Linked DNA regions of Homo sapiens. The protein of the gene in region 1 purifies or fractionates together with the protein of each later gene. This does not show direct contact. Each region holds a gene or a part of one and is shown in the gene's direction. Other genes may lie near its edges.

Region 1 (3,500 bases):
GCAGGATACAGTATTAAAGTTCACTTTCACACCAATCTTACCAGCCCACCCCATTCCTGTCTCTTCTCCCATGAACCTTGAGGTTACCACTGTTTACACATGGGTATTTGTCTTTGCACACCATTTATGTGCATGTTATATTTTATACAAATAAAAACAAGCTGGGGAGATTGTTTAATTTTGTTTTGCTTTTTATGTAAATGAGATCTTGACGTTGTTTTGAACCTTGCTTTTTTTGTTCACTTGACATATCTTGGTGAATTTTCCATTTCACTGCAGATAGATGCATCTCGTTCTTTTTTTTTTTTTACATTCTTTTTTTTGAGGAAGGGTCTCGCTCTGTCACTGAAGTGCAGTGGTGAGATCTCAGCTCACTGCAGCCTCTGCCTCCCGGGTTCCAGTACTTCTCGTGCCTCAGCCTCCTGAGTAGCTGGGACTACAGGCGTGTGCCACCACACCCAGCTAAGTTTTGTATTTTTAGTAGAGACAGGGTTTCACCGTATTTCCCAGGGTGGTCTCGAACTCCTGACCTCAAGTGATCCTCCCGCCTCGGCCTCCCAAAGTGCTGGGATTACAGGCATGAGCCACCATGCCTGGCTGCTTTTTTTATTTTTTTTGAGATAGGATCTCTGTCACCCACGCTGGAGTGCAGTGGTACAATCTCAGCTAACTGCAACCTCCACCTGGTGGGTTCAAGCTATCCTCCCACCTCAGCCTCCTGAGTAGCTGAGACTACAGGTGTATGCCACCATGCCCAGCTAATTTTTGTATTTTTAGTAGAGACAGTGTTTCGCTATCACCCAGGCTTGTCTTAAACTCCCGGATGCAAGTGATCCGCCTGCATTAGCCTCCCAAAGTCTTGGGATTACAGGCGTGAACCACCACCCCCGGCCTCATGTCATTCTTTTTTTTTTTTTTTTTTTTTTTTGAGACGGAGTCTCACTCTGTAGCCCAGGCTGGAGTGTAGAGGTGCTATCTCGGCTCACTGCAAGCTCTGCCTCCTGGGTTCACGCCATTCTCCTGCCACAGCCTCCCAAGTAGCTGGGACTACAGGCACCCACCACCACGCCCGGCTAATTTTTTGTATTTGTAGTAGAGACGGGGTTTTACCGTGTTAGCCAGGATGATCTCGATCTCCTGACCTTGTGATCCACCCGCCTCGGCCTCCCAGTGTGCTGGGATTACAAGCATGAGCCACTGCGCCCGGCCCATTCTTTTTAACCTTTGTGTATTTTTCCATAATCGAGATTTAATATATTTTACCAATTCTCTGTTTTTATTTGTTTTCCGATTTTTTAATCATTGTGAACTGTCATCATTGAACATCTTAATACAAGTATCTTTGTCTGTAAATGTGGGTATTTTGATGGGATTGAATGAAACAATGTTGAGAAACATAGCCAAGTTCTAACATTGATAGGAATAGAGTAATAAGTACCATCTTCTACCCATTTCTCTATGGGTTTCATGGTCTTGCTTTCACATTGCTTCTTCTGATGGATTTTCCTAAGTCTTAACCTTCACGTCATCAGTAACAGTACCTTATTTGAGACTGGGGCACTTGGGAATGACTGCCCCCCAACCCCCGCCCCCATTATCTCCTTAGGTACTTTTCTGTTTGTCTTACTGTGTTGTCGTATTTACTCTAGAACACTTTCCACTCTCTACTGATATGTCCTCCTCTGCCATTTCAGGACCTCCCACCCTCCCCCACTGAGCTGCCTTCCCAGTGATGAAAGAAAAAATGTAAAAGCCTGAAAACCCTTCTTCTTGATTTTTAATTTTTTTTTTTCCCTCTAAGACCTTAACCACTCTGGATAGTATCACGGGGTATCAGTAGAGTGTGCTAAACAGATGTGTACTCTGCAGCTTCTTTGCAGGTTTTTTGTCACATTTTTCAGTCAAGTGTTCCAGCTTTGTGCTTGTTCATTAGAGTCACCTGTGACTACAGAGATTCTGAAAGTTTGAATCAGGGCCTGGGAATCTGTACTTTGAACAGTACTACAGGTGGTATTTATGCCTAGGCAAGTATGGGAAACAACTGTGCAGAAGGATAAAGACGTTCTTATCTATGACTAGACCATCTGAATGATTTGGCCTTTGAAGGTGACTCAAGGTTGAGCCTGGATGTTGGAGACTTGGTGCTATAGACCAAGGAAGCTGCCAAGTATTTCGCTGGTTCCTAATCTCATGAACATCAGAATCACCTGAAAAACATTTAAAGCTACGAATGTCTGAATTCAGCTTCAGAGACTCTAAATCAATAGGAGAAACTTAAAGCTTCCTAGATGATTCTAATAACCAGCCATGTTTGAAGACCAGACCACCAATGCGTACAAGAAGTAAAGGATTTGGAGTCAACATTTAAACCTTGGTTCTTTCACTTTTAATTCTTATGAACTTGGGCAAAAGGATTAAAATTCTACTTTGGTATCTTTTGAAAGAAAACAGAAAGTGGACATTTTAACTATAAGTTTCTTATCAGCCTACAATCAGATGAAGGAAACTGGTAAAAATTTCTCACTGTAATAATTGAAGAGTCTGATATTCCACCATACTTATTTTATGGATGAAGTAATATTTGGGATAATATAAAAGACTTGCATAGATATGTATATCAAATTAATAGTTTAACTCGGATGTGAGCTTTTAATTTCTTATTTAGTTATTAAGCATACTGCCTCCTGAATTAACTGCTTTTCATTTTCTTCAAGATCTAATTATCATGGACCTGCGACAGTTTCTTATGTGCCTGTCCCTGTGCACAGCCTTTGCCTTGAGCAAACCCACAGAAAAGAAGGACCGTGTACATCATGAGCCTCAGCTCAGTGACAAGGTTCACAATGATGCTCAGAGTTTTGATTATGACCATGATGCCTTCTTGGGTGCTGAAGAAGCAAAGACCTTTGATCAGCTGACACCAGAAGAGAGCAAGGAAAGGCTTGGGTAAGGTACCACCTCTCAGGGGTCTAGTGTGGGTAATGACATTCTTTATAAAGGCTAATTCTTTTCTTTTCTGGCTCAGTTATGAGTAAAGTTATATTGAACTATTAATACATCTTCTGAAAGCTAACCATGGAATTACTACCTCTAAAATTTCATTAAATGCCTGATTTCATACATTTTTAATTGAATAACAGTTGGTGCCTCATTCTACAAAGCATCATTTTTGCATAAAAGTACCAAGTACTGCAAGACCCAACTTGAACTGCATTATCTTGCTACCAGAAGAACATAGCATGGGGGGATTTCTCATCTCTTCTCATCTCTACTGCTTTTAATTTTTAAAAACTATCTGTGCCCTACTGACCTGGCACAAGCCAAGTCTTTGATGGGCTAATAAACGGCACATTGGATCCCTATAAAGTTTATGATTTCCCGAGGTGTCCTTCACCCTCTTTATTTTCATTCTCAGATATTTGTTTAATTAAAAAACAAAAATCAAACCAACTTTGTCTTTTAGAAAATTGTAACTTAATGTCTGAGTATGAGTTACTGTT
Region 2 (3,320 bases), on another chromosome or scaffold:
GCTGCTTAGAAATTCTATTATTAGACACTTATATAAGCTAATACATAAGATGAGATGTCAGTTGTAGAGTGGTTTGTCCTTATACCAAATGGCCACAGAGGGGTATACTTTTCTAATTGCTGAGTCCATTTTTTAGAGTAATCTTCTTAATTTGGAATACTTTTAGGTTTACAGGAAAGTAACAAAAATAGTACAAAGAGTTCCCATGTGCCCCTCACCCAGTTTTTCCTAATGTTAACATTGTATGTTACATTTTTCTTTCCTCTTCTTTTTCTTTTTTTTTTCGAGACGGAGTCTCGCTCTGTCACCCAGGCTGGAGTGCAATGGCACGATCTCAGCTCACTGCAACCTCCGCATCCCAGATTCAGGCGATTCTCCTGCCTCAGCCTCCCAAGTAGCTGGGACTACAGGCGTGCACCACCACGCCAGGCTAATTTTTGTATTTTCAGTAGAGACGGGGTTTCACCATATTGGCCAGGCTGGTCTCGAACTCCTGACCTTGTGATCTGCCTGCCTCAGCCTCCTAAAGTGCTGGGATTACAGGCATGAGCCACCGAGCCTGGCCCTACATTTTCCAAATATACATGGTACATTTATCAAAATTAAGAAACCAACATCGGTGCATTATTATTAAGTAAACTCCAGACTTTTATTTAGATTTTACCAGTTTTTCCGGTAACACTCTTGGTTGCAGGATTCAATCGGGTATATCACACATTGCACTTAGCCTGGGTCCAGGTGTGTTTTATGTATATGTATGTATGTGCATACCACAGGGATAGAAGAAGCCAAAATATTTTCTTTTGTCATTGTTATCTTTAAGGAGTGGACTTCTGGGTTATTTTTCATGAAATTACACTCCTTTTGTTTTCCAAATATCCCAGTGGGAGACGAGGAGTCCCTTTTTTTTTTTTTTCAGCCAGAAGCATATACAGGAATTTAAATAGTATTGCAATCCAGGGTAGGGCAAACACTGTCTCCTTTCTCGATCCTGAGGGCATCACTGGGTTGCCACAGTGGCCTACCCTACCCTATCTTCCTAAGGAGAATGCTGGACAATTGTATTTAAATGTTCTTCAGCATGTTCTGTTTCTTTTAGAATGCTTTCTACTAGGCTTTGATGCTTTAAATGAATGAGTCCCCCAGCTCTTGAGAAATGCCTGATCAGAAAACATGTTCAGGGGGCGCTAGGGAACTGAAGTTAAGACTAATTGAATGAAATTTTCTTTGACAGATTTTTCCACCATGAGATTAGTACAGAATCTGTGTGAGAAGAGAGGCAGAAGCAATTTTGTTACTGTAGAAGAGATTACAAAGAACTTTTGTAAATTGCAGGTAGGAGAGACTTGTTTTGCTTTTTTGACAGTCTTGCTCCTCTCTGTATCCCACAGCTGGCCCTGAAGGACCCTGTTCATACAGTGTCACTGCAGCAGTTCATCTACGAGAAGCTCAAGGCACAGCAGGAGATGCTAGGAGAACAAGGTTTCCAGTCCCTCATGGAAACAGTGGATACGGAGATTGTCACCCAGCTACAGGAGTTTTTGCAAGGATTCTAAGAGCACATGACATGTGGCTGCCTCCCCTTTCAGAAACAAGCTGAGTAACCCAGCCTGCCGTTTGTATGTGAGAGCCTGCTGAGATGAAGAAATCACTTCATGAAAATAAGCAAAGACCACACATTTTTTACTACAAAATGTAAAGGATAAATGTAAATCCTGCATAACTAAAATCACAAACCTATTCCTCAAAAGAATTTAATTTTATATTTATGAGGGGGCCCTTCACTAAAAAGTACATGTAAAAGTACATTTGATGACAATAGCTGCTTAGTTTCCTGTTAAGAGAAGAAACTTTATCTTTTAATTATGTGCTCTTAATATTTGAAGATGAGAGTTAATACCTGAGATGTTTTTCTGCAACCAAAATTCATTAAATTTGGCTGCCTTATCCTTTTTTTAAGCTAATGAAACTACAGGTTTGAAAAATGACAAAGCTGTTCAGATGATGCTATTAAAGAAATGTGTGTACTAAGCAAAAATATATAAATAGTGACAAATACACATTACCAAGCTTATCTTGCAAGGGAGTTATTTTCATCTAACATAGAAAGTGTGTTTTATCAGACAAATGCTTTTATTTTCATTCTAATAATTTGATACAGAAATTAGTAAAGGCATTTTTTTCTTTTTTTTTCCAGTAAATACATTGGGTCTATAAATGTGCATTTGTAAGGGCCACAAAAGTGAACGTGTGGTACTGTAGTACCACGTGGGAGACCTCTGGTTATGGTTTAGTCCTAGTTCCTTTGTTACTCCTGTGAGCACCGAGAAGAACTGGGCGACTCCCAGTCCCACCTGTGCTGTGACAGTCCCACGTGGCTATGACAGACTGTTTAGTACTTACCCTTCTCAGGTTCCTCAGTGCAGGGGTGCATCAGGGCCTCAATAATAGGGGTATACCTGGGAGGATCCAGCAGTAATCCCCAGGGTACTAGGATTACTAGTACTCTGATGGAACTAGTCTTCCTTCCTTATTCCTCGAACATGCAGTACATAAAAAGGGGAAAAGGAGAAAAAAAAAGCCTTACTTTGTTTTACTTGCCATTTATTGTAAGGAAACTTTAAAGCATTTTTTAGGAAATACTCAAAAGCAAGGTTGGAAAATGTTTTATCTTTCTATAGAAAGTTGGGTACAGTATGTAACTGCGGGAAACCCACTGCCCCTTTGTAAGCTGTGGAACCCAAACTGTATGGGGATATTTGATGTTTTCAGAAAGAGGAAGAAAATATGGTCCAAATTAAATTTTCCAAAGATACCTCACCTTGGACTGATTTGTCTGACTACTTTTCTTGCTCCCCCCAAAAAATGAGTTCTTAAAAATTGCCCAGTGACTTATAGAGAATTTTCTTTTATACTCTAGCTTTGATTCTGTGCTAGTAGGTATCAGTATTGCAGGTGGCAAATCCTAGTTACCCTTTTAATTTATCTTCATTTAAAGACAAAAAGCTCCTTTCAAGTGATATTTCTTTATCAGTATTACTCAGTCCTGAAGACTGATCCAAGAAGAATTTCTTTTTGTTGACTTAATTATTTTCATTTGAAACACTAACTCATTAGTGTTATCAGAAATTCTCAAACATGCTCATTTTTCAGTTATAGTAAAGTACTCATCCTTCTAATTCCTGACAGATTTCATTATAGTGCCATACCAAATATTACTGAAATAGCTACCTTGCAAAAGAAGTAAAAAGCTTATCTCAGGGAAAGAGTTTGCTTCATTTTTAAAACTCACAAGTTTAAATAGGCTTGGTAAATAGCTC
Region 3 (3,500 bases), on another chromosome or scaffold:
AGCTCACTGCAATCTCCATCTCCTGGGTTCAAGCGATTCTCCTGCCTCAGCCTTCCGACTAGCTGGGATTTTAGGCACACGCCACCACACCCAGCTAATTTTTGTACTTTTTAGTAGAGACGGGGTTTTACCATGTTGGTCAGGATGATATTGAACTCCTGACCTCAAGCGATCCGCCTGCCTCGGCCTCCCAGAGTGCTGGGATTACAGGCGTGAGCTACTGTGCCCGGCCCAAACATCTTTCCATGTCAGTAAATATTCACCTATTTACAGAGACGCCTAACTGGTGCTGCTGGCTGATTCTGCTCCCCAGTCCCTCCATATTATTTCTTTTCTTTTCTTTTTTTTTTTTTTTGAGATGGAGTCTTGCACTGTCGCCCAGGCTGGAGTGCAGTGGCATGATCTTGGCTCACTGCAAGCTCCACCTGACAGGTTCATGCCATTCTCCTGCCTCAGCCTCCCAAGTAGCTGGGACTACAGGTGTCTGCCACCACGCCCGGCTAATTTTTTGTATTTTTAGTAGAGACGGGGTTTCACCATGTTAGCCAGGATGGTCTCCATCTCCTGACCTCGTGATCTGCCTGCCTCGGCCTCCCAAAGTGATGGGATTACAGGCGTGAGCCACCGTGCCCAGCCCATATTATTTCTTTAAATGTCTTTAGAAAGAACGCGTTTACTGGTTTACCACAATCCCCATCCCTCCCTATTGCTGATTTCACCACTCTCATCAACCACCTTGTTTTTCTAGTTTCCATCATATGGATGGATGCACTGTAAATTTTTTGTTTTCTTTTTTTGAGATGGAGTTTCACTCTGTCACCCAGGCTGGAGTGCAGTGGTGCTATTTCACCTCACTGCATCCTCGCCTCCCAGGTTCAAGCAATTCTCCTGCCTCAGCCTCCCGAGTAGCTGGGATTACAGGCATGTGCCATGCCTGGCTAAATTTTGTATTTTTAGTAGAGACAAAGTTTCACCATGTCGGCCAGGCTGGTCTTGAACTCCTGACCTCAGGTGATCTGCCTGCCTCAGCCTCCCAAAGTGCTGGGATTACAGGCGTGAGCCACTGCACCCAGCCATGTATTTCATTAGACTGTCTTCCTGGACATGTAGGTGGTTTGTAACCTTGGTGAATGGAGGCAGTGGTTTCATCTCTTTGAAGCAATAGACTTTCTGAGTGCAGATAAGAGGAGCGTTTCTAGGGAAGATGGCTACATGGCCACACCAGGAGTCAGCACTCTGGTGACAGTGATGTACCTTGGATCTCTGTGTCCCCAGCTGGAATTAGAGAGAGATTTGGACAGGCTTGTGGCTGAGGCATGTCATCTTTGGACGATGGCTCTGTACTTGGGATTGATTGAAGGTGAGGAGAGCATTGGAGCCCTGTTGAGAGTTAGACACCGGATGCTGGTGATGCCTGAGAAATGAGATGGGGCTCCCATTTCCCAGGGGCTTGGAGTCTTGGGGACAGGACGAGGAAACCAAGGACTGTAGACCGGTTCGTCCGGATGCTGGGGGAGGGGCACCTACAGCACACCCAGGTCTGGGCAACTTCCCGGAGGAGGTGGCCTCAGGCTGAGCTCTGGAGAATACACGGATGGAGAAGGTGGAGGAGAAACAGGCATCCAGACAGAGGAAAGAGCGGGTGCCAGAGGACGAGACCTCAAGTGTGATCTGTTAGGGACTGAGTAGCTCCAGGGAGCTGGACTGAAAGGGACTCACGCGGGGTGGGGAAGGGCCAGATGGAAACGCTCAGGGCTTACTCCCTCCTTTACTGGCATAGGAAGCCCTTGGAGCCAGGGGTGGCATTCAGATTTGCGTTTTTCAGAGCTGCCTCTGGAAGCAGCGTGGGAGACAGATGGGAGGCAGAAAACCAGCCAGGGCTGGGGAAGAAGTGATGGAGAGGAGAGGAGACCTGCAGGGGGCTGGCGATGGATGAGATGTGGCGGGTGCAAGGAAGGTGGCATCCAAGTGGCTTGCAGGCTTCTGGCCCGGGACCCCGCGTGATGGCATGCATAGCTTTCACCAAGCTGCAAGCCACAGGAGGAGAAGCTAATGTGGTAAGGACGGGGGAGAAGGATATGAGTTAATTGGGGGCTTAAAAGCCTTAGGGCAGAGCAGCCTGGTGCGGTGGCTCACACCTGTAATCCCAGCACTTTAGGAGGCCGAGGCGGGTGGATCGCTTTGAGGTTAGGAGTTCGAGACCAGCCTGACAAACATGGCAAAACCCCATCTCTACTAAAAATACAAAAATTAGCTGGGCGTGGTGGTGGGCACCTGTAATCCCAGCTACTTTGGAGGCTGAGGCAGGAGAATTGCTTGAACCCAGGAGGCGGAGGTTGCAGCGAGCCAAGATTGTACCATTGTACTCCTGCCTGGGTGACAAGAGCAAAACTCTGTCTCAAAAAAAAAAAAAAAAAAAAGTCTTAGCGCAGAGCAAAGAGGAGGTGTTCAGCAGATGATTGCATATGTGGGTCTAGACCAGCGCTGCCCAGCAGAACCTTCAGCTGTGGTGCAAGGTGCTAAGAGCTGTGCTGTCTAGTATGGCAGCTGCTAGTCACGTGAGCACTTAAAATGTGGCTCCTTGGCCGAGAACTGGATGTTTCATTTTGTTTAACTGACATAGCTCCATGTGGCTCGTAGCCACTGTACTGACTTAAACATTTGCAAGCCCAGGTCTCAGCAGCCAGGTCAGTGGTGGGGACATGGAATGGGGCATTGTCAGCTGAAGATGTGGTGTGGACCAGGACAGGCAGAAAGAGGTCAGGCACGGTGGCTTCACGCTGATAATCCTACCCGCTTTGGGAGGCCAAGGCTGGAGGATTGCTTGAGACCAGCCTGGGAAACATAGTGAGATCCTGTCTCTAAAAAAAAAAAATTTTTTTTTTTAATTAGCTGGATGTGGTGGCATGTGCTTGTAGTTCCAGCTACCCGGGAGGCTGAGATGGGAGGATCACTTGGGTCCAAGGGTTTGAAGCTGCAGTGAGCCATGACTGTACCACTGCACTCCAGCCTGGGTGACAGGAGACCCTGTCTCCTAAATAAATAAATAAATAAATGTAGAATTAGGAGCAAGAGGAGCTGAGAGCTGAGGAACAGCCTGGGAGAGCACCTGTCTTTGGGGGTTGATCAGGAAGGCTAAACACTGGGAGACAGTGTGGGCCAAACCCCATGGCTGAAGAAGAGGGCAGTCGACATTGGCAGATGCTTACAGTGCGCACGAAAGAGGAATGCAGAAGGGTGTTGGGTGCCACGAGGGTCGTGGGTGATCGTAGCCAAGCAGTCGGGGCGGGGCCAGCAGGAGGAGGGCCAGTGGGATGCTGTGCTGATTATATTCCTGACCTAGAAGCCCCAGGCTGGGGATAAAGCCCTGTCTTATGCCAGGCTTCCTCAGGAGCTGCCTGGAAAATGCTGGGGCTTGTCCAGGCCCCAGACAACCAAATACGTTTGTGCTGCTTGTAAAGGGCTGGGTGCGACGGGGCACCAGGCCATAGAATTCCCAG
Region 4 (3,052 bases), on another chromosome or scaffold:
AGCAGTAGCTTTTTGCCCCCGTGGACTAGTTTTATACCTGCCCTTCCCCATCCATCATTTGAATGATGTCATTTGTTAGTTGTGCCAGGTTTACATGAAGAGCAAGTGAGCCTATGTTTTCTGTTCAGCCTATGGGATCCTGCTTATTGCTTTGGGGACACCACATTAGAAAAGAGTTACAAGGGCTGGGCGCGGTGGCTCACACCTGTAATCCCAGCACTTTGGGGAGGCCGAGGCGGACAGATCACGAGGTCAGGAGATCGAGACCATCCTGGCTAACACAGTGAAACCCCGCCTCTACTAAAAATACAAAAAAAATTAGCTGGGCGTGCTGGCGGGCGCCTGTCGTCCCAGCTACTCAGGAGGCTGAGGCAGGAGAATGGCATGAACCTGGGAGGCGGAGCTTGCAGTGAGGCAATATTGCGCCACTGCACTCCAGCCTGGGCGACAGAGCGAGACTCCGTCTCAAAAAAAAAAAGGAGTTACAAAGTAGAGGTTATCAGTGGCTGATATCAGGCTGGCCTTGTTTGGATGGGGAAAAGGAACTCCAGAACTGAAAGACAGAGGGACTGGACTGCCTCTTGAGTGTGGAAGGTGGATCAGAGCCAAGCAGGGAGCTGGGGAACCAGCGCTGGGAGTGGCTTGCCTGGTGGCGCAGACCCAGCTCACTCAAGATGGATCTCATACTGGGGAAGCCAGGAGATTCAGCTCTGCTCCGAAGGCCCTTCCTGTCTGCACGTGGGTATCACTGCATGAAGAGGAGTAGAGACCCGATTGGGCAGAAGCCATTCCTTGTTCTATTTTTGAAGCTTTTTGGCTGAAGCCAGTGTTTCATACGAGGAAATGAAAGTTGGCTGATGTAATTCAGTTTAAAATAGGTGTCACCTTTGGGGACCTAACCCAGATTGTAATTTTCTTTTGCATGCTGGGTATTCAGAACTCAGCAAAGAATGTGTTGTCAGGATTGCAACTGAGGTTGGGGGGTAAGGGTGGAGACTGGCTCATTGTTGGCAAAAGCTTCTGTTAGATTGATAAACTCTTTCCAGGTAACAGTTGGGACCTCATTGATCCCGATAGATCTTAGAAGTTCTAGCACATCTTAATTTCCTTAATAGTTTAATTGATGAAGAGCATTGATGAAGAGTTAGGAGGTCTCCCTTTGTACCTACATTTTCCGCTTTTTTAGAATGAGAAGATGAGAACGACCTCCAGTTCACATGTACGGGTGCTGTGAGGATCCAGTAGGGGAGATACAGTGCTCAGCACCAAGCAGGTGCAAGTGAGCACAATCCAATTTTACATCAAGTTACCCCTCCAGGACAGTTGCTTTGACGTGGAAGGTAGAGAGGGAGTTGAAAGGAGGGTTTGCATGGTTGGCAGAGGTGCCCTGCAGCCTCCCTGTGCAGGCTGTAAACCGTCTCTGCCCCCCTGGAAGCCGTGGAAGGTGGGTGGTATGGATGAGATCCCATCTGACTCTGTTCCTGAGCTGTTTCTGAAGTGAGCTTGTTCATGACGGCATGGATGTGCTTGAGCCTAGCTATCCTTAACTGGTGGTGATGCACAGGGGACATGCTTCGGGCATTCCATGCAGCCTTGCGGAACTCTCCCGTCAACACCAAGAATCAAGCTGTGAAGGTAAAGGGGTGGCGCTGCGGCTCTGCTGGGTGCTGTTGGGACCAGGGCTGTGGGTGTCTGCCCAGTGCGAGTGTGAGCTTTCATCCACATCAGAGGGAGTGAGTTGGCACTGGGCGGGGCTTCCAGGGAAGCCTCCTGGCGCTCCCTAGGTGGTGAGGCTTCTCTGACATCAACGCTGTCAGCGTTTATATACGAGAACCTCCCCACAGAAGCCTTCACTCCTGCTCACGGCCTCGTAGGCTGAGAAGTCAGCCTGGCCCTGGCTGATGAGGAAAATGGATGAATTCGCTCACCTGTGGTGCTTATGCTCCCACAGACTGTTAAATAGGCTTTGTCTGCCTGAGGATTTTAAGTACCCGTACGCTTTCCTACCTTCTAAAAACTAAATTGTGCTTACTGCATCACCAAGTCTAAAATTTGGTTCAGAGAAAGGGGTCTCCCTGCAGCTGGGATTCTGGCAGCTGTGACAGCATCTTGATGTCACCAGTGGCTGCACCTTCACAGAGTTCTGGGGAATGGCCCCACCCTTCTGGGTGTGAACACAAGAGGGACGCTGCAGCCGAGTCAACCTGGTTTTATTTTTATTTTTTAATAGTCCACCACCATTGTGGAGTATAATAAGGCCTTATTGGTGTCATCTAAAATAGTGATGGGCTGGGTGCCATGGTTTATGCCTGTAATCCCAGCACTTTGGGAGGCAGGAGGATCGCTTGAGCTCAGGAGTTTGAGACCAGCCTGGGCAACATAGCGAGACTTTGTCTGTATTAAAAAATAAAAAAAATAATTAGCTGGGCATGGTGGCATGTGCCTGTAGCCCTAACTGAGGTGGGAGGATTGCTTGAGCCTGGGAGAGGCTGCAGTGAGCTGAGATTGCACCACTGCACTCTAGCTCAGGCAACAGAGCGAGACCCTGCCCCTCCCTCCCTCTCTCCCTCTTTTCTCTTCTCTCTCTCTCTCTCTCTCAGAGTTGATACTTGTCCTAGTAAACTACTTACTCCCCCAAAATAAGTAGGGTAACTTGTTGGCATAAATAAAAGATACTTTGAAATTTAAATCCACAAAAGACGTTCTAACCCACTTATTTTAACCATCCTGGACGAATTAGAAACTGGGCAGTGTTTCTGGTGATCTGTGTCCTTGCTTTGGTGTGGGGCATGGCATGGCGGTGCCTTCGCAGCTCTGGGACTCACTTGCTCTTTTTCGTCTGCAGGAGCGAGCCCAGGGCGTGGTGCTGAAAGTGCTCACAAACTTCAAGAGCAGTGAGATTGAGCAGGCTGTGCAGTCACTGGACAGAAACGGCGTTGACTTGTTAATGAAGTACATTTATAAAGGCTTTGAGAAGCCCACAGAAAATAGCAGCGCAGTGTTACTCCAGTGGCACGAAAAGGTATGTGAACGCTGCCACGCGCCCCAGTGA
Region 5 (2,486 bases), on another chromosome or scaffold:
GGGTGGATCATCTGAGGTCAGGAGTTGAAGACCAGCCTGGCCAACATGGTGAAACCCTGTCTCAACTAAAAATACAAAAATTAGCTGGGCGTGGTGGCGGGCGCCTATAATCCCAGCTACTCGGGAGGCTGAGGCAGGAAAATCATTTGAACCCTGGAGGCAGAGGTTGCAGTGAGCCAAGATTGCGCCATTGCACTCCAGCCTGGGCGACGAGCAAAACTCTGTCTGGAAAAAAAAAATGGCCAGGCATGGTAGCTCACGCCTGTAATCCCAGCCCTTTGGGAGGCCGAGGCAGGCAGATCATGAGGTCAGGAGTTTGAGACCAGCCTGGCCAATATGGTGAAACCCTGTCTCTACTAAAAATACAAAAATTAGCTGAGCATGGTGGTGGGCACCTGTACTCAGGAGACTGAGGCAGGAGAATCGCTTGAGCCTGGGAGGCAGAGGTTGCAGTGAGCCGAGATTGTGCCACTGCACTCCAGCCTGGGCAACAGACCAAGAATCCGCCTCAAAAAAAAAAAAAAAAAAAAAGAATGAATGAGCCATACAGGGCATTTAAGTATACATTAATATTTGTGATGTTATAGGGTAGCCTAAAAATCTGTCACGGTTAGGGAAAAAATTCTTGTCCAAGTCAGATGCAGCCAACTTTGACTATAACAGTGAATAGAGGCAGAAGTGCCAGGTCCTGCCCTAGGAAATAGGAAAGGTTGTGGTCTGGGTCTAATATGGGAAATGCCTGGATCTCCAGCTTCTCATCTTTAAAATGGGGGTTCCTAACAAGACAGTCTGTAGAGGAGGAATAGTGTAGTGGTTAAGAGTACACACAGAGGCCAAGGTGGGTGGATTGCTTGAGGCCCGGAGTTTGAGACCAGCCTGGCCTACATAGTGAAACCGTGTCTCTACTAAAAATACAAAAAGTAGCTGGGTGTGGTGGTGTGTGCTGGTAGTCCCAGCTACTCGGGAGGCTGAGGCACAAGAATCATTTGAACCTGGGAGGCGGAGGTTACAGTGAATTGAGATTGAGCCACTGCATTCCAGCCTGGGCAATGGAGCGAGAGACTCTGTCTGTCTCCAAAAAAAAAAAAAAACAAAAAAACAGGGCACACGCAGTGCGATCATGTTACCGGGAATTAATCCCAGACCTACTACTTAGGCCTTTGAACAAGACATAACCAACCTTTATATAGTGCTTACTGCATTCCTAGCATTGTTCCAAGTGCTTTACGTATACTAACTTGCTTAATCTTCACAACAGCCTATGGAGTGAATACTGTTTCATCGGTCTCTAACAAATAAAATGCTAATGAACTTGCATAAGTTTCCTAGGTGATAGGTGACAGAGATGGGATTCAAACCCAGACATTCTTTGCCTCAATTTCCTCATCAATTACATACTACTACTACTGCTACTACTACTAATAATAGTGTCAATTTCATAGGGTAGTTTTGAGGATTAAAGAAAATATTACAAGTAAAATGTTTGCAATATGATCATGCCCATAATATTAGCCCTCAATTAATGTTATTTAAAAAAATTTTACTATTTGCATAAGTTCCTTGCAGCTTTAAAATTCTGTGATTTCCTGACTACCCAGGCCCTTGGGATAATAGTTGTTTTTTGTTTTTTTTTTTTTTGAGACAGTTTCACTCTTGTTGCCCAGGCTGGAGTGCAATGGCGCGATCTTGGCTCACGGCAACCTCTGCCTCCCGGGTTCAAGCAATTGTCCTGCCTCAGCCTCCTGAGTTGCTGGGATTACAGGTGCGTGCCACCACGCCTGACTAATTTTTGTATTTTTAGTAGAGAGGGTTTCGCCGTGTTGGCCAGGCTGGTCTTGAACCCTGACGTCAGGTGATCTACCCACCTTGGCCTCCCAAAGTGCTAGGATTACAGGTGTGAGCCACCGTGCCCAGCCGGGATAATAGTTTTGAAAATACAGACCGTAAGAATTGTGATGAAGTAAAACAGCTTGACACTGGAGTTAACCATGAGTTACCATGTGTTTTCAGGCACTGCAGATTCTCCATGTGTAATTAATTCTTTTTCCTTGCTTTGGTAGATTGTTGATCCATTTCAGATACTTGTGGCAGCAAACAAAGCAGTTCACCTCTACAAACTGGGAAAAATGAAGACAAGAACTCTATCTACTGAAATTATTTTCAACCTTTCCCCAAATAACAATGTAATGTGCACTTTCCTATTTCTGTTGACCGTGTCATAATAACATATGTGTTCCTCAGTGTTGGGTTGGAGGCTAAATTCCTGCAAGCCAGTGGTTAGTAATAAACCCAAATAATAGTGAAGAGAGCTCTGGACAGAGAGTTGAGGTTTAACCCTGCCTCTTACTAAGACAGTTTACATATGAGTAAACAAAAATTTAGCTAAATTAAGCGAGGTTAATTTTATCTGTTCTTACCATATAGGGTCAGGAAGACCCCTCAAGTATTTTTGCTTGAGAAGCTGACAGAAATCTAAATGATAAAAC
Region 6 (3,500 bases), about 130 Mb from region 1:
CTGAGAGGTGAGCGGGAGAGGCCCCAGGGTCCGGGCTGCTCCTGTGTCGGAGCTCTTGGGAAGAGTTGGTTGGTACTCGGATTGCTTCGGGAAGTCTCTGGGGAGTTTGCAGCAGCTGAGAGACAAGGCTGGCTTTAAAGCATCCCTCTGATGTCGACGGAGAAAGGGTTTTTAAGGGCACACGAGGGAATGAGCCACCCAGGGGACTGCCGACGTCTGAAAGCCATGAGGGTAGCCCGTACTGGGTGCCGACGCTGGCAGCGGAGAGACAGAGAGGATGTAACTTCTGTTTTGACAGTGCTTAGAAATTGGAGCTACATTCCTATAGAGAAAAATATTCTGTAAGGCAAAACCCATTTTCCTATTTATATTCATTAGGAAATGAGGGAGGCCGTCCTGTGGAGAGGAAGGTTGTGCGAAGCAAGTCCTGCTTCCCTTTGACAGCCATTAGCATTTCAGAGCTGTGTTCTTGGGGAGATGAACCCCCCAGAATGGATTGGTATGAAACAGTGGGGTCATCTTGGCACAGAACCCCTCAGGGTGCCCACAGAAGTGGGGCTCAGGGCCCATTCCTCAGGTATCCGGCACCCCGGCTTCCTCCAGGAGACGGGATTCTCAGATCTTCATTTGCGTGTGGCTCTGGGTGCAGATGGGTGTCCAAGTGAATATGGGAGCAGGCACGCATGTTCACGTGTGTGCGTGTAGATTACCACTTGTGTGAACAGAGGACTGTGCAGGGGTGTGTGTAGGTTCGCGGGTGTGTGCATGTAGATTCGTGTCTGAATATGGGAGTGTGCACACACGTGCATGAACTCACGTGTGTGTAGATTAGTGTCTGCGTGAATAGAGGTGTGTGCACACCCTCCTGGCCCCCCCACCCCTTTCCCCTCTTGGACACCACAGTGGGCAGCCGATGTGGGTTCATGAATGATCGTGGCTCTGATGTGAAATTCCTTCCGTCTGAGGGTTAGGTTCTGTAAAATGAATTTGTTGTCTGCTTTTTCTTTTTTTTTGCAAATTCAGTCGAGCGGATGGAGGCTCTGAGATGCAGGGAGCGTGTGGAGCTCCCGCGGGTTCCTGGTGGGTCTGGGAGCGGCCGGCTCCCCTGTCCTTGGGGTAGGCAGGGAGGGACGTCAGGAAGAGAGTCAGGCCCCTGAGGTGTTTGCTGTCTGACAGACATCCGGGCTTATTTTTGTTCCTTCATTACATTGTCCCCACAGAGCAAGAGCATGCTACATCTGAGGGCTGTGAGTCCCCAGAGACAGCTTTTCAGAGAAACAACTCACCAGAAATCCAGTGTTCCCGCACCCGAATCCACACCAGTCAGGGACCGAGGGGACTCAGCTGAATGGGCAGCTCCCAGCCCTGGGCGCCTGTGCCCTCACCATGCACAGTGTGTGTGCCACCGTGCTCCCACACACACTGGGGAGGCATGCACAGGGGTGCACAGGCACAGGTGCACGCACACACACACCATGGGGTCCTGGAGTGCAGCCTGTGCCAACATGGGACTTCAGCTCCCATCCTGCCACGACCACCCAGGGCACCTGAGCCTCACACCCCATACCTGGGCTCAGAGCAGCTCTCCCGCCCCACCCTGCGGCCCTGCATGTCAGTTGTGGGTAAGGCCCGCGCCACTGGGAATCTTCACACAGCCCGGAGGGAGGTGCTGTGTGCCCATTTCACAGACCAGAAGGCCGAGGCATGGAGTGGGGAAGTAACATGGTCCAGGCTCACGGCTCACATGTGCCAGAACCCAGCATAGCCTGTCTGGGACACCCTTGGGCCCCCACCCCACATTTTACAGAAAGGTCTGTAAACAGCCTCAGCACCTCCCATGGTGCCCAGACTTCCCCCAAGCCTCCTCTGGTGTCCTCTTCCTGCACCCACCACCAGCCTCAGCCCTGCTGCCCTTGCCTGGCCCCAGCGGTCGTGGGTGTGGACCCTGAGCCTCGGCTCTCACTTTGCCCTCTGTCTGCCCACGTGGGTGCCAGAGCATCCCCCATCTCTGCGACAGTCTTGGTGACTACCCGGCTTAGCGAGTGAGGGAATATTTGGCACAGCAGCGAAATCGGGAGTGTGGGGTGCGGGCATCGCGTGGACACGCTGTGAACTGGGATTTGGAGCACGGGTGATGCCAGAGTGGGTGATGTCAGGGGCTGGCCTGTGCTCCCAGGAGTGCTCACCCCGAGGAACTGGCCTTGGGTGGCAGAGGAGAGGAGAGGCCTGGGGACCCTGACCCTCATCTCCCATCACCTCCGCTGGGCTGCGTGACCCTGAGTTACACACTAATGATTATGCCCGTCTTGCAGGGATGTTGGCACCTACTCAGCTAGAGCCCACCCCCCACATACACACACACGCGTGCGCGCACACACACACGCGTGCACACACGTACGCGCGCACACACACACACACACAACTGCGCATGGCTCCCATTTGACAAAAGAGCAGCCAGGGCTCTGTACCCTGCCAGGGTCTAGCTGGTGACCAGGGCTGGGCGGGAGGGCCATAGCTACAGCCCAGGCCTGGGTCCATTGTGCTGGCATTATCACGGCTGCACATCCCCCTCCCTGCAGGAGGCTCTGGGACCTCCCCAAGCCTGGGGGTGCCTGGCCTGACCATCTGGGCCGTGGGCAGGGAACTCTGGGCCTGGGGCCAGGAGGACAGTCCCGGGGCCTGCTCTGGGGTCCCCTGCAGGTTGCTGGCTGAGGGAACCCACAGGAACGTTCCCTGGAGGTTCAGGCAGGAGGGGAAACTGAGGCCCAGGCTGCTGCCTCAGCCCCGTCCCTACCGAGCTCTCCCGGGGAGGATGTGGGGAGGGGAACCGAGGGTTCCTGCAAGCCTCATGTTCGCACCTGTGCACTGGAGCTGCTAACTCCTGTCTGCTGGGGTGAGTCCCACCAAGCGGGGTGGCATTTGTGGGGCGTTGGCACAGCCTGGATGCCATGGTGCTCAGAATGAGGGTCCCTTCCCCCTGCCCCCTGGCCACACTCCAACAGTGGCTCCCTCCTGTGACTCTGCCCCTGTCCTTGGCCATTGCGGGCGTGGTGTCCCCAGTCCTCTGAAAGCCCCATTGTGCAGGGTCACCTTTGCCTTGTCCTGTCCACCACAGGGCCCTGGCACCCAGATCACCATCCTCGAGGAAAGGAGAGGGCAGGGACAGAGATGGAACGGGGAGCAGAAGGGGGCGCGTGTGCCCCTGAGCGCTCCTGTGTGCAGGTGCACAGTTCATTAAACATGACCATGAAGTCGGGACATGGGAGTTACGCATTAGAAGTGTTCATTCACTGATTCATTCATTCATTCACCTACCCAGTGGACATTCTCCGATGCTGGGCTCCGTGGTCTGGATACGAAAGCAAAACAGGTGTTATCCTGGGAGTAGCCTGGGCTTGCCTTGGGCACTCTGGCTCATTCTGACCCGGTCCGTGGGCCCAGGGCAGTGCTGGAACACCCCTTGGAGGAGTGCCCAAGGCAGATCACGTAGGGGAACAAAT
Region 7 (3,500 bases), on another chromosome or scaffold:
TATCAGTGGGAAAGAGTGGAACTGAATGTTTGAGCCTGTTGTAACATTATTTTAATATAATAAGAAATTTTTAGATTTTTTTCATAAAACGTACTTATTTTAAATAGTTACAAGGGAGCAGAGTTTAAATCTTGCTATGTGAGACTTTTGTCATGATTCTTCACTAGAAGTTTGTGATTTAAAGATTTGTGATGAAGAAATTCCACTATGCAAGTGGCATGGCTTCCCAGTTATAAAATCTCAGCTCTTGAGAGGGCCTCAGAGCTAACTTCTACCCCAGGTACTGTGCCTTGCACAACATAAGGCAAGCCAGCCTCTGACTGAACATGCCTGGAAAGGAGTTCAATATCTTACTTAACATCTCTCAGGAAGATGTGCCATCTTCAACTGGACCATTGGCTTCTGAGTAAGCTGTGTTAGGCCTGGGCTAGACCTAATGGTTTATTATTGGTGGAGAGAAAGATCTGGAAATACTTGAGGTTATTACATACTAGATTAGCTTCTAATGTGAACCATTTTTCTTTTAACAGTGATAAATTATTATTTCCGAAGTTAACTGTTCCCTTGGTCGTGATACACACTCGATTAACAAACATACTGTTGTATTTTTTCCAGTTTTGTTTGGCTATGCCACCACAGTCATCCCCAGGGTCTATACATACTATGTTTCAACTGTATTATTTGCCATTTTTGGCATTAGAATGCTTCGGGAAGGCTTAAAGATGAGCCCTGATGAGGGTCAAGAGGAACTGGAAGAAGTTCAAGCTGAATTAAAGAAGAAAGATGAAGAAGTAAGCCATGGCACTGTTGATCTGGACCAAAAAGGCACTCAACTAGGAATAAACACTCTACAGAGGTTTCTCAGTGGCCCCATCTGTGTGATATGCGGGGCTACACAAAAATAGCTTCTTTTGCTTTGTTCTGTTCTTATACCTGTCTGTGATCTGACTTGGGGTTGGTGTGAATGTAGTAGAGAAAGGAAGCTGACAGATGAATACTGAACACAGGTAATCAGTTTCCTTAATTAGGTTGATTATAAGCTCCTGAAAAGCAGGAACTGTATTTTATAATTTTACCTGTTTCTCCCGTGGTGTCTAGGATAGTAAGTGAGCAGAGCAGTAAATACTGTTTGGTTTGTTCAGCTGAGGAGAAACGGAAGAATTGAGACTATAGCATTTGTTGCTGTGTGAGACCAGTGGTTCAGAGGGGAGGTTTGGGGGTCACATAAATGTAGTTTTTTTGGAGCATATTTCATAGAATTTAAACACTTAGAAAAGTCAAGTGATTTGTGTGCTATTTTGATTTGCTTCCTGTGCTTACTTTCATTTGTTTATTATTTATTTTAGTTTCAACGAACCAAACTTTTAAATGGACCGGGAGATGTTGAAACGGGTACAAGCATAACAGTACCTCAGAAAAAGTGGTTGCATTTTATTTCACCCATTTTTGTTCAAGCTCTTACATTAACATTCTTAGCAGAATGGGGTGATCGCTCTCAACTAACTACAATTGTATTGGCAGCTAGAGAGGTGAGTGATATTTGAGAGGAGACTGTTTAAAATGAAACGTAATTATTATTACTTTGTTCCAGAAAACACTGGACACACTGAAGTGGGCCACAGCATTCCTTCATATGCAAGACTGTTTTACATCTGATAATTCAGCTGCTCTCTAAAATTGGCCTTCTCCCAGTTCCTGCTACCTGCAGGTGAAATTCTTGTAACCAAGCTCAGTTGGGCTCTTTTTACTCATCCTTTTCCCTTTGGTTTTGCCAAAATGATGCCGTGGTACTTGTCATCTTAGCTTGGTTTTCTTATCATAGAACTTTCTTTTTTATAGTTGTTGAGAATATAAATCAGTATAATATTATTGAAGGCCATTTTGGTGTTTAATACCTAAAGCCTTAAAAATGTGTAGCTAGCCGGGCTTGGTGGTATGCACCTGTAGTCCCAGCTACTCAGGAGGGTTGAGGTGGGAGGATTGCTTGAGCCTGGGAGGTTGAGGCTCCAGTGAGCTGTGTTCGCGCCACTGCACTCCAGCCTTGGTGACAGGGAGACCCAGTCTGAAAAAAAAAAAAAAGTGTATAGCTTTTCGTTCATGTGTTACACTAAAGAAATTGACTGTTGCACAGACTACTTATAATTATTGTAACTTAGTAAAAATTTAGAAACAGCCTAATAATCCAGCAGAAAATTGGTTCAGCTGTTTACAAATCTCTGTGTAGCTCTTAGAATATTCACTCTTCAACATCATTTCAGTGACATGGAAAAATTTTAAAAGGAGGTTTACTTTTAAAATATAAAAAGAAGGCCGGGTGCCGTCCCTCACGCCTGTAATCCCAGCACTTTAGGAGGCCAAGGTGGGCGGATCACCTGAGGTCAGGAGTTTGAGACCAGCCTGACCAGCATGGAGAAACCCCTACTACTAAAAATACAAAAATTAGCCGGGCAAGGTGGCTCATGCCTGTAATCTTAGCTACTCAGGAGACTGAGGCAGGAGAATTGATTGAACCGGGGAGGCAGAGGTTGCAGTGAGCCTAGATTGCACCACTGCACTCCAGCCTGGGCAGCAGAGTGAGATGCTATCTCAAAAAATTAAATAAATAATATATAAAAAGAACAAAAAAGACTTAAGGAAATAAAAACATTATTTTTATTTCAGTGCTTATCTATCGTTGCGTACTGCTATTATGGGTAATTTATTTATTTACTTTTTGGTAGGGGTGGGGTCTCACCATGTTGTCCAGCCAGTTTTGAACCCCTGGCCTGAAACTTCCTGCCTCAGCCTCGCAAATAATCCTTCTGGGATTATAGGCGAGAGTCACTGCTCTGGCCTAGGTGACTTGTTTGTTTCTGTGTAGGAACTTTTTGTTCAAAAAGTCTTAGCCCAAGAATCCTAAGTTCTGGAGTGGGAAGCTAGAGACCTCAGCTCATCTTGTAGCTTTTACTCTTCAGATGAAGAACCTGACCCCCAGAGAGATCGGGTGACTTGTGTGAGGGAGTAAGCTGGCTGGCTGTGGCCTTCTTCACAGTTGTTCAATGCCACTTATTTAAAACATGCCCATTGGTTTTTTATTTTTTAATTTTTCTTTTGATGGGAATAGCAAGGTTTTATATGAGGCGCCTGTCATTGTTCACACAGATTTATTAAGATTTCATGTGGAGACGGTTGTGGAATGGAATACTGCTGCCACTTTTCAACCTCTTTTTCATCTTAACTGATACTATTTCTTATCTGTGTTTATATCAGATTCTCTTTTTATAAGAGTAAAATTGTTTCTAATTCCTTGGAACTATCATAAAAGAACAAGTTCTTTAATTATAGGCTGTGGTTTAAAATACAAGACAGTTGAAGGCCAGGACTAAGATAGATGGGAAAGGCTATTTTGTCAGGGAAGCCTCAAAAATGCTGTATTTTGGGGAAAAAAAATGGAACTCTGATTTTCATTTGATTCTCATAAAACAAACTTTCTTTAAAAATATCACTTTAATTAGCTGGGC

What was found.
Region 2: the proteins of CALU (region 1) and IPO11 fractionate together in Homo sapiens (co-fractionation; one large-scale study listed by BioGRID). This does not show direct contact.
Region 3: the proteins of CALU (region 1) and C1QTNF1 purify together in Homo sapiens (co-immunoprecipitation; one large-scale study listed by IntAct). This does not show direct contact.
Region 4: the proteins of CALU (region 1) and ARPC5L fractionate together in Homo sapiens (co-fractionation; one large-scale study listed by BioGRID). This does not show direct contact.
Region 5: the proteins of CALU (region 1) and TPRKB fractionate together in Homo sapiens (co-fractionation; one large-scale study listed by BioGRID). This does not show direct contact.
Region 6: the proteins of CALU (region 1) and ELFN1 fractionate together in Homo sapiens (co-fractionation; one large-scale study listed by BioGRID). This does not show direct contact.
Region 7: the proteins of CALU (region 1) and TMEM165 fractionate together in Homo sapiens (co-fractionation; one large-scale study listed by BioGRID). This does not show direct contact.

The regions. Positions count from the first base shown.
Region 1 is NC_000007.14:128,745,859-128,749,358, forward strand, and holds part of CALU (calumenin isoform a precursor), read left to right. Parts: intron 1-1,694; exon of another isoform or gene 1,695-2,496; coding exon of another isoform or gene 2,497-2,509; intron 2,510-2,714; coding exon of another isoform or gene 2,715-2,725; coding exon 2,726-2,946; intron 2,947-3,500. UniProt on the Homo sapiens protein: Involved in regulation of vitamin K-dependent carboxylation of multiple N-terminal glutamate residues. Seems to inhibit gamma-carboxylase GGCX. Binds 7 calcium ions with a low affinity.
Region 2 is NC_000005.10:62,625,763-62,629,082, forward strand, and holds the end of IPO11 (importin-11), read left to right. Parts: intron 1-1,391; coding exon 1,392-1,556; 3' UTR 1,557-2,820; downstream 2,821-3,320. UniProt on the Homo sapiens protein: Functions in nuclear protein import as nuclear transport receptor. Serves as receptor for nuclear localization signals (NLS) in cargo substrates.
Region 3 is NC_000017.11:79,030,669-79,034,168, forward strand, and holds part of C1QTNF1 (complement C1q tumor necrosis factor-related protein 1 isoform 1 precursor), read left to right. Parts: intron 1-3,500.
Region 4 is NC_000009.12:124,872,130-124,875,181, forward strand, and holds part of ARPC5L (actin-related protein 2/3 complex subunit 5-like protein), read left to right. Parts: exon of another isoform or gene 1-1,537; coding exon of another isoform or gene 1,538-1,557; exon of another isoform or gene 1,558-1,562; coding exon 1,563-1,635; intron 1,636-2,845; coding exon 2,846-3,022; intron 3,023-3,052. UniProt on the Homo sapiens protein: May function as component of the Arp2/3 complex which is involved in regulation of actin polymerization and together with an activating nucleation-promoting factor (NPF) mediates the formation of branched actin networks.
Region 5 is NC_000002.12:73,731,860-73,734,345, reverse strand, and holds part of TPRKB (EKC/KEOPS complex subunit TPRKB), read left to right. Parts: intron 1-1,641; exon of another isoform or gene 1,642-1,645; coding exon of another isoform or gene 1,646-1,762; intron 1,763-2,060; coding exon 2,061-2,183; intron 2,184-2,486. UniProt on the Homo sapiens protein: Component of the EKC/KEOPS complex that is required for the formation of a threonylcarbamoyl group on adenosine at position 37 (t(6)A37) in tRNAs that read codons beginning with adenine.
Region 6 is NC_000007.14:1,676,777-1,680,276, forward strand, and holds part of ELFN1 (protein ELFN1 precursor), read left to right. Parts: intron 1-3,500. UniProt on the Homo sapiens protein: Postsynaptic protein that regulates circuit dynamics in the central nervous system by modulating the temporal dynamics of interneuron recruitment.
Region 7 is NC_000004.12:55,416,457-55,419,956, forward strand, and holds part of TMEM165 (putative divalent cation/proton antiporter TMEM165 precursor), read left to right. Parts: intron 1-615; coding exon 616-791; intron 792-1,346; coding exon 1,347-1,529; intron 1,530-3,500. UniProt on the Homo sapiens protein: Putative divalent cation:proton antiporter that exchanges calcium or manganese ions for protons across the Golgi membrane.